2 separate regions of the Homo sapiens genome follow, and region 2 is linked to region 1. Evidence: fine-mapped expression QTL. A gene starts in region 1. The other region holds a variant in brackets. All regions are shown on one strand. Distances are between the middles of the regions. Region 1 holds the start of MYL9 (myosin light chain 9). Region 2 overlaps SLA2 (Src like adaptor 2).

Evidence for each region. PIP is the estimated chance that this variant, and not a neighbour inherited with it, causes the effect.
Region 2: its variant is fine-mapped to the expression of MYL9 in whole blood (TOPMed, PIP above 0.99).

The regions. Positions count from the first base shown.
Region 1 is chr20:36,538,891-36,543,273 of GRCh38, reverse strand. It overlaps MYL9 (myosin light chain 9), which reads right to left and starts at 1,755. Exons shown (of 4, transcript NM_006097.5): 1 at 1,713-1,755. The region is part of intron 2 of DLGAP4-AS1 (DLGAP4 antisense RNA 1); the gene reads left to right. RefSeq lists enhancers at 1-300, 301-954 and a silencer at 1,735-1,934.
Region 2 is chr20:36,630,880-36,635,262 of GRCh38, reverse strand. SLA2 (Src like adaptor 2) reads left to right here. Exons shown (of 8, transcript NM_032214.4): 3 at 674-773; 4 at 1,634-1,720; 5 at 2,565-2,668. Among named protein-coding and RNA genes, the nearest start is that of SLA2, 13 kb to the left of the region's middle. RefSeq lists an enhancer at 1,736-2,237. The variant C/T (reference allele first, on the strand shown) is at 1,973.

The DNA.
Region 1 (4,383 bases):
GGCCATCACTGCCTGTAGTCATGAGACAGTGGTTGCCCGTGTCCCACGGACCGACACACCCAGCCCTCAGTGTTTCTTGCATGGTTCAGGAAGGTAGACAGAATTCCTTCTCACCCATGACCTAGTTGGGAGTGCCATTGTCCCCAGATGCCGGCCCCCTCCTCTCCCGTGCTTTAGAGGGGCCTAGTCCTTCCCTGAGTCCAGTGTTCTCGGGAACTTTGACTCCTGGTGCCCACAGAAGGCTGCATGCAGAGAGGCAGTGCACTGTGCCCAACAGAGGCTGTGATGGCCATCACTGTCCCCACCACACTCTATGAAGCTCTAGGGCAGGCATGGCCAGGCCACCCACAGCTGGGTCTGAGCCCAGCTGGGCCCCTCTGCCTTCATGGCCACCCGGTCTGCACTCTCTGCTGTGGTGTGGCTGGGAGCACTGTACTTAAGGGCTTGCACAAGGCCGCCATGTCCACCCCAGCAATTGTGGGAAGTGGTGAGCGGAGGCAGGGGTGCCCCCATGGTGCAGCTAGGAAAAGAGGCCCCAGAAGGGGAGTGGAGTGCCCATGAGAGGGGGAGGGGCCACCTGGAAGACAGGATTCCTGGGCTAGGTTTGGGTCAGTGGAGAGCAAACTTGGCTGCTGGTGCCCTCGAGGCTTGAACAAAACAGGGAGCCCCAGTCCTCAGGCGGGCCTGTGGCAGTGGAGTGGGAAAGGGCTCTGTGTATCCAGAGGCGCCTTCTAGAACTGGTGGAGGGGCGAGGGGCAGGCATGGGTGGGGCCTTTAGTTCTGAGGCCATCGCTTCCCCCTTCAGGTGCCCTAGACACCAGGGGTCAGCACTGATACTTGGCCTGGATGTGACTGGATGCCATGTCCCCCATCCTGGTGTCCAGATTCCCACCATAACAGAAAAGGCTGGGCTGAAGCCAGCACAGGGCAGTGCCCCCATGACCTCCAGCCCCTGGAGCTGGGCAGGCCAGATGCCTCCTTCTCAGTGCACCTCATCTGAGTCTCCTCCTTAGAGCAGCTGGAGGGCTGGGAAGAGCAGGGATCAGGTTCTCCCAGCCACTAGTCCTCGTCCTGCCCCCTAGGGGTGAGTCCATCAGGGCCCTCCGCAGACCTTCCCCACCCACAGGCGAGATGACCCAGAGAGGGGAAGGCCCGGGTCCCTGCATACAGCACTGGCTGTGTCGGAAGGGCCCCCTGGTCTCGGTCCCTTTCCCCTGGCCCAGGGTGTAGGGATGGGAGATGGGGAGGGGACACAGATGCTGTGGGGGCGTGGAGTCCCACAGGGCTGTTTCTCCATCTGTGACACACATGCCTTTACTGGGCCAGGGGGAACTGACGACTGCAACCCTCTCCCCAGCACCCTTGTACCCGGGCTCCCCAGCCCCCCCCGGAGCTCTGGGCTTGGCATCTCCAGCTCCTCAGCAAAGGGGCAGGGCCTGGACGATGGCCTTCCCTTGCCGCAGGACCACTGCTTCTCAGAGGCCAGAACAGCCTTCCTGCTGCCCGGCCCCTGGCCAGAGTCCCTGTCGGCCCCCAGCAAACTCGCTGCCCCAGCTCACCCCTCAGTCCGTGCCCAACAGACCCTACCACGTCCCAGTCCGTGGGGCCCGCCTTTGCCCCCCGTGACAGCCGGGTCGGGCCCGGGCCACCTCTCATCTCCAGCCCTGGGCCGTTAGGCCTGTCCTCAAGACCCCCGGGGCCCCGGATCCCACCTGGTGCGGAGAAGGCGCTTGGGCTCGCTGGGTGCGTGGAACTGGGCCGGCCGTCGGGTCTGGACTCCAGGCGGGGGCGGGGCGTGGCGGCCGGGCCTTACAAGGCAGAAGAATGTGCGCGGGGCGGGGCCGCGGGCGGGGTGCGGGGGCCCTCGGCTGCCGTCCGGCCTTATTTGGCCTCGACCCACGGGCTGGCAGGCGGGGGCGCTCTGGGGTGAGCCCCCCTTCCTTGCTGTGCCAGCCCGGGCTGCACAGAGGGCCTTGTAGGGAGGGGAGGTGATGGGGTGAGCAGGCAATGGGAGAGGGGGTGTGGGGGTTCGCTCTGGGCCACCCCTTCCCCTCCAGAGAGGCAAACGGAATGTCCAGGGCCGCTTCCCCAGAGGCCTCCCACTTGTATGGGCCGTGGGAGTGCAGCTTCCCCTGACGGGCAACGGCTCTCGACGTGGGGAGGGCAGAGGCGGTGGGTGGGGGGGCTCCCAGGGACCCCTACGCCCGGTGACTCGCTCTGTCCACATCAGCGGTCGCCCGCCAGAGCGGGGTTGAAGGAACCACTCGGGAAGCACTGGTTTCGTGGAGGGAAACACGATGAACAAGTAGCTCCGCGGCCTGGGGCCTCAAAGGAGAAGGGGACCTGGGGGGAGCGTGGGCTGTTCCGCAGGGTGCTCTGGGCAGTGACATTGGGCAGACAGGAGGTGCAGGGGTGCGCCCCGCCGTGAGGGCTCCCGGGCTTGGGGTCGCCGGCAGCAGGAGGTCAGGAGGATGGGGGCGGGAGCCGGAGGGGCTGAGAAGCAGCAGGGACCCCTCTGTGGCTCCCTGTAGGCCATGTGGGGTGTCGGAGGGTTCCGAGCAGGGGGTGACGACCTGGCTTGGGTTTTGACGGAATCCTTCTGGGTGATGTGTTGAAAATAGCGCAGAGGGGGCCGAGTCCACGAGCAGGGGACCTGTGAGGAGCGACCCAGCAAGGATCAGGCTGATCCGGACTAGCGGGGAGGCCGAGGGACAAGTGCTAAAACTATTTCCGAGGTGCAGCCGGTAGGATCTGCTGGGGCATGGGAATGGGTGTGAAAGAAAAGAGTTAGGGTGGACTCTCAGAGTTTTGATGTGAGCAACGAGAAAGAGCTGCCATTTTCTATGATGGGTTTGCTGTGTGGAGCAGTTTGGGGATAAGAAACTCTATTTTGGACAGATTAATTTTTAAAAACTTTATTTTGAAATGATTTCAGACTTAGGATAAAGTTAGAAGAACTGTGCAAAGAACCCTGTATAGCTTCATCTAGATTCTCCATTTGTTACCATTGGGTTTTATTATATTTTCTTCTTGCTTTCCATATACATATACATATATATAATACATGTACATACATTTATATTTATTTATTCCTACCCCCAACCATTTGAGAGTTTCTTGCATACGTATGTCCTGTTATCTCTACATGTTTCAGTGAGTACCTCCTAAAAAGGAGATTCTCTTAAATATGCATAGTACAATGATAAAAGTCAGGACAATTTTCACATTGATTTAATTACCTAATTTACAGTCCATATTCAGGTTGTGCCAGTTATCCCAATAATGTCCTTTAGAGGAATTTTTTCTGGTCTAGGAGCCAAAGTAAGATCATTTGTCATCACATTTCTTCAGTGTCCCAGTTTTACATTTTATTTTTTGATTGTGGTAAAATATACATAACATAAAATTACCATTTTCAGCGTGTTTTTTTTTTTTTTTTTTTTTTTGAGATGGAGTCTCCCTCTGTCGCCCAGGCTGGAGTGCAGTGGCGCCATCTCAGCTGACTGCAAGCTCCGCCTCCCAGGTTCATGCCATTTTCAGCATTTTTAAGTGTATAGTTTGGTGGCATTAAGTATATTCACTTTGTTTTGCAACCATCACCACCATCCATCTCCAGAGCACTTTCATCTTCCTCAGCCGAAACTCCCTGCCAGTTAAACACTAACTCCACCTTGCCCCCTTCTCCCCGCCCCTGGCAGTCATCATTCATCTTTCTGTTTTCTGTGAGTTTATCTACTTATTGGGGCCTCATGTAAGTGGAATCATATAGCATTCGACCTTTTGTCACTGGCTTATTTCACCCAGCATAATGTCCTCAAGCCCCAGGTTCATCCATGTTTAGTGTATATCAGAATTTCTTTTTGGGGGTGGGGGGTTGAGATAGGGTCTCACTCTGTCGCCGTGGGTGGCATGCAGTGGCACAATTATAGCTCACTGCAGCCTTGACCTCCTGGGCTCAAGCAATCCCCCTGCTTTGACCCCCTCAAGTAGCTAGGGCTGCAAGCATGCACCAGCACACCCGGCTAAGTTTTCTTTTTTTTTTTTGAAACGGAGTCTCGCTCTGTCACCCAGGCTGGAGTCCAGTGGCGCGATCTCGGCTCACTGCAAGCTCTGCCTCCCGGGTTCATGCCATTCTCCTGCCTCAGCCTTCCGAGTAGCTGGGACTACAGGCGCCCGCCACCATGCCCGGCTAATTTTTTTTTTTTGTATGTTTAGTAGAGACGGGGTTTCACCGTGTTAGTCAGGATGGTCTCGATCTCCTGACCTCATTATCTGCCCGCCTCAGCCTCCCAAAGTGCTGGGATTACAGATGTGAGCCACTGCGCCCGGCCCACACCTGGCTAAGTTTTCTACTTTTGTAGAAACAGGGTCTCCCTGTGTTGC
Region 2 (4,383 bases), 92 kb before region 1:
GGATGCTAGGGTGCAGTGAGTGGCCTTCAGCAGCTGCTGAAACCTGGATTTTCAGGCTACAAGGCTCGGCGGTCATAGGGAGTCTGGTTGGCCTGAGCAGGCTGCCCTCTGGGGTGGCTGAGGGCGTGGGTGCTGTGCTGAGGGTGCCCTTGCCGCCTGATGCCCAGCCTTGAAATTGGGCCTTATGGTCACCACATTCTGAGCCTCATGGCCACCGTGTCCTGGGCAACATAGCAAGACCTCATCTCTACTAAAAAATTGTTTTAAATTAGCCGGGTGTAGTGGTGCACACCTGTAGTCCCAGCCACTCAGGAGGCTGAGGCTGGAGGATTTGAGCCCGGGAGGTCAAGGCTGCATTGAGCCTAATTTTTAGAGATAGGATCTTGCCCTGTCGCTCAGCCTACGTGCAGTGGTGATGGAGCAAGACCCTATCACTATTTTTTTTTTCTTTCTTTCTCTCTCTCTCTCTCTCTCTCTGGGCACTGTCAGGGCTCTGCAAAGTTCTGCTGGAAAAGCTTGATTCCAGGGTGGCCCTCTTAGGAAGTGGATGGGACTCCCTCAGGGTGCTTGTGGAGGGCTGATGCTGGGAGCCAGACCCAGGCCAGACTCCACTAGACCTCATGCGTGGAGCAGGGCTAGCTAAGTAGGTGACTATTTCTGTCCCTCCATCTAGAGAGAAGCAAGGCCACAGCCGTGGCCCTGGGCAGTTTCCCGGCAGGTGGCCCGGCCGAGCTGTCGCTGAGACTCGGGGAGCCATTGACCATCGTCTCTGAGTAAGTCCATGGGCACTGGATACCTGAATATGCACTAATAGAGCCAGGCATGGTGGTGTGTGCCTGTAGCGCTAGCTGTCTGGGAGGCTTAGGTGGGAGAATCGCTGGAGCTCGGGAGCTCAAGGCTGCAATGAGCTATGATCAAGCCAGTGCACTCCAGCTTGGGTGACAGCAAGACCCTGTCATCTCTAAAATAAATGAATGGGCCAGGCGTGGTAGCTCACACCTGTAATCCCAGCACTTTGGGAGGCTGAGGTGGGCAGATCACCTGAGGTCAGGAATTCGAGACCAGCCTGGCCAACACGGTGAAACCGTCTCTACTAAAAATACAAAAATTAGCCGGGCTTGGTGGCAGACGCCTGTAATCCCAGCTACTTGGGAGGCTGAGGCAGGAGAATCACTTGAACCTGGGAGGAGGAGGTTGCAGTGAGCTGAGATCACGCCATTGCACTCCAGCCTGGGCGACGAGCAAAACTCTGTCTCAAAAAAATAAAAGAAGGAAGGAATTAGAGATACTGTCCCGGGAGAAGGGGCCCTTCCCCCAGGTAGAAAAGCACAAGCCTTTGCTGAAGCGCTCACAGAAACCCTGTGGTGGAATTTCAGGCGGCTGGACACCCCCACAGGGAGAAGCAGTGGGTGGGCAGCGCCCTGTAGCAGGGAGCCTGGAATTGTGCATCTACCACCAGCCCCAGCCCTGACTCAGGAGGTACCTGGACAGGCTAGTGCAGGGAAGCCTGGGAAACAGGCAGGACAGGTGGCCACAGGATCCAGCCTGAGAGGGTCCTTGCAAGCCCTGAATGTGTGGTTGTCGGGGCCTTGGCTCATCTGAAAGAGGTGCCCCCACTCCTTTCTCTCTCCAGGGATGGAGACTGGTGGACGGTGCTGTCTGAAGTCTCAGGCAGAGAGTATAACATCCCCAGCGTCCACGTGGCCAAAGTCTCCCATGGGTGAGTTCCCACCCCAGGCCCGCCTTGCAGAGCTTCCTGCTTTCTCCTCCCACAAGAACTCCCCTTTGTGCACGGCTCTGCGCTGAGCAAAGCTGGGGATGGGGGAGAATCGAACCCAGGTCCTGCCCTCAAGAGGGGCAGACAGCTCATCCTAGCACAGGTTGGCCTGTGAGATGTGGGAGCCAGAGGAAGGGCTTGGGAAGGCCCACAGAGGAGGTGTGGAGCTCTGGGCTTTGGAGGTTGCCAGGATCT[C/T]GTGGTGGAAAATGCTGAAAAGTCCACGTAGGAGATGGCAGCATGTGGCGTGAGGGGCTGGCACAGTGGTGCGCACCTGTAGTCCCAGCTACTAGGGAGGCTGAGGTGGGAGGATCATCTGAGCCTGGAAGGTCAAGGCTGCAGTGAGCCGTGATTGCGCCACTGCACTCTAGTCTAGGCCACAGAGCAGGAGCCTGTCTCAGTAAAAAAAGAAAAAAACAGAGGGGCAGCTCTTGGAAAGCTGAGGCTTAGAAAGGTGAGTGGATAGAATCAGGGTGCTTTGGGGACTGAGCAGGGATAGCAGAGAGGCTGGGACCAACCCAGGTTACTTGGGGGAATGAGGTCTCCAGGCAGAGAAAGCTGAGGCTGTCCCCATGAGTTTGTCCTCCCAGGGCCCTGGAGCCAGGACTGGGAGGACAAAAATGGCATGGACCTCGGAGACCCTGAGCCCAGCTCTTCGTGGAGCAGATAGAACTCTGAGGCCCAGAGAGGGAGGGCCTTGTGAGGGTCACTCAGCGGTGGTGGTAAAATCTTGGCTTCCCTCTTCCTCCAGGCTGACCCTGTCCCTTGTCCCTCTCTTTCGCTCCGCCAGGTGGCTGTATGAGGGCCTGAGCAGGGAGAAAGCAGAGGAACTGCTGTTGTTACCTGGGAACCCTGGAGGGGCCTTCCTCATCCGGGAGAGCCAGACCAGGAGAGGTGAGTAAGCTCGGTGCCAGCCCAGGCCCTCCCTACGTGGAGGTCTCAGAAAGGAGCCCACAGATATATGGCTGCAGGTGCGGCCCAGAAAATAGGCTTTGCCTGACTTCTCAGTCAACCAAGATTTCCTGAGCCCCAGCTCCGTGTCCTGCCCATATGAACCATGTGGAGCCCAGGCTGGGGGAGATGGAGACAGGCCATGAAAGCAGAGGAGAGGCAGCTAACTTTGGAGCAATCAAGGGAGGCTTCATGGAGGAATAGACCATGAGTGGACCTGGAGGAGTGGACCTGGGATCCTGAGGGATGTTCCCACAGGATCCCAGGCAACAAGACACAGTGGTGCTGGGGTGGGCCAGTGGGCTGCACCTCGGGACAATAGGAGGTTAGAAGTGAGCAAGCTCCAGCACAGAGGCCTTGGATGCCGAGCTGAGAAGCTTTGGTTTTCTCCCAAGGCAGTGGGGTTGCTACTCAGCAGAGACACAGTGCTGGGCGTGTGTTTTGGGGGAAACGAGAGGATGCATTACAGGGACTCTCTGAGTGTGTTCTGTGGGCCACCTGCTTAGAAGTAGAGGAGATGGGGGGTCAGTTTAGGGGACCCCGAAAATCGTATCCTTCTCTGAGAGGTTCACAATCCGTGTTAACACAAGACTTCTTAAGGCGTCGCGTTTGCCTAACTGGGCATTTCCCAAGTGTTTCTGACACAGGAGTGTTTCATCATGCAGCACCAGTCAGAGTCACTCCATGTTCATTCATTCAGCAAATGCTTCTCCAGCACCTATGATGTGGGGAGGCTTCAGGGAAGGACAGGACCTACTGTATGTGTCAGGCCTTAGGCATCTCTGCTGAGTGAGGTGGCCATGGTCCCTGCTCTCAGGGAGCTCCTGGGTCACTGGAAGCCAGTGTTCCATGGCACAGAGTTTGGGAAACATACCTCTATTTGAGATCCACAGTGATGCCAGGGCTTGCCCCTCCAATGCCAAGAGCCAAGTGTGATATGACTTGAGGGTGGGGCAGAAGGCCAAATGTGAAGGGCTGGAGTTCCTAGCCTTGGTGTCTAGCAGTCTGGCTGTCATCTGCCATGTTGCTGCCATGAGAGCCTATCAGCAATAGAGCAAAAATCTGCATTTCTAAAAATAATACAGGCCGGGCACTGTGGCTCACACCTGTAATCCCAGCACTTTGGGAGGCTGAGGTGGGAGAATCACTTGTGCCCAGAAATTTGAGACCAGCCTAGCCAACATAATGAGACCACTTCTCTACAAAAAAATTTAAAATGTAGTGAGGCATGGTGGTGCATCCCTGTAGTCCGAGCTACTTCGGAGGCTGAAGTGGGAGGATCACTTAAGTCCAGGAGTTCCAGGGTGCAGTGAGCCATGATTGCACCACTGCACTCCAGCCTGGGCAACAGAGCCAGACTCCATTTCAAAAAATAAAAGTGAATGTGAATGGCCCACAGTAGGGATCTAGGCTCAGCCAACACATTGGCAACTAGGATTTTTAATAGAGTATAGTCACAGAATTTCTCTGCGTTGACTAGGAGGTGATTCCTCCTTCCCCAAGACACAACATGATTCTGATCTCTTGGCAAAACATTAAAATGGTGACAGGATCTCTTGGGTCAGTAGCCAGTCAGAGCTAGAAACCCACTGGAAGTCATCTCATGGATCCTCCTCGCTCCACTGTACAGACTGAAAAACTGGACCAAAGAGGAGTAG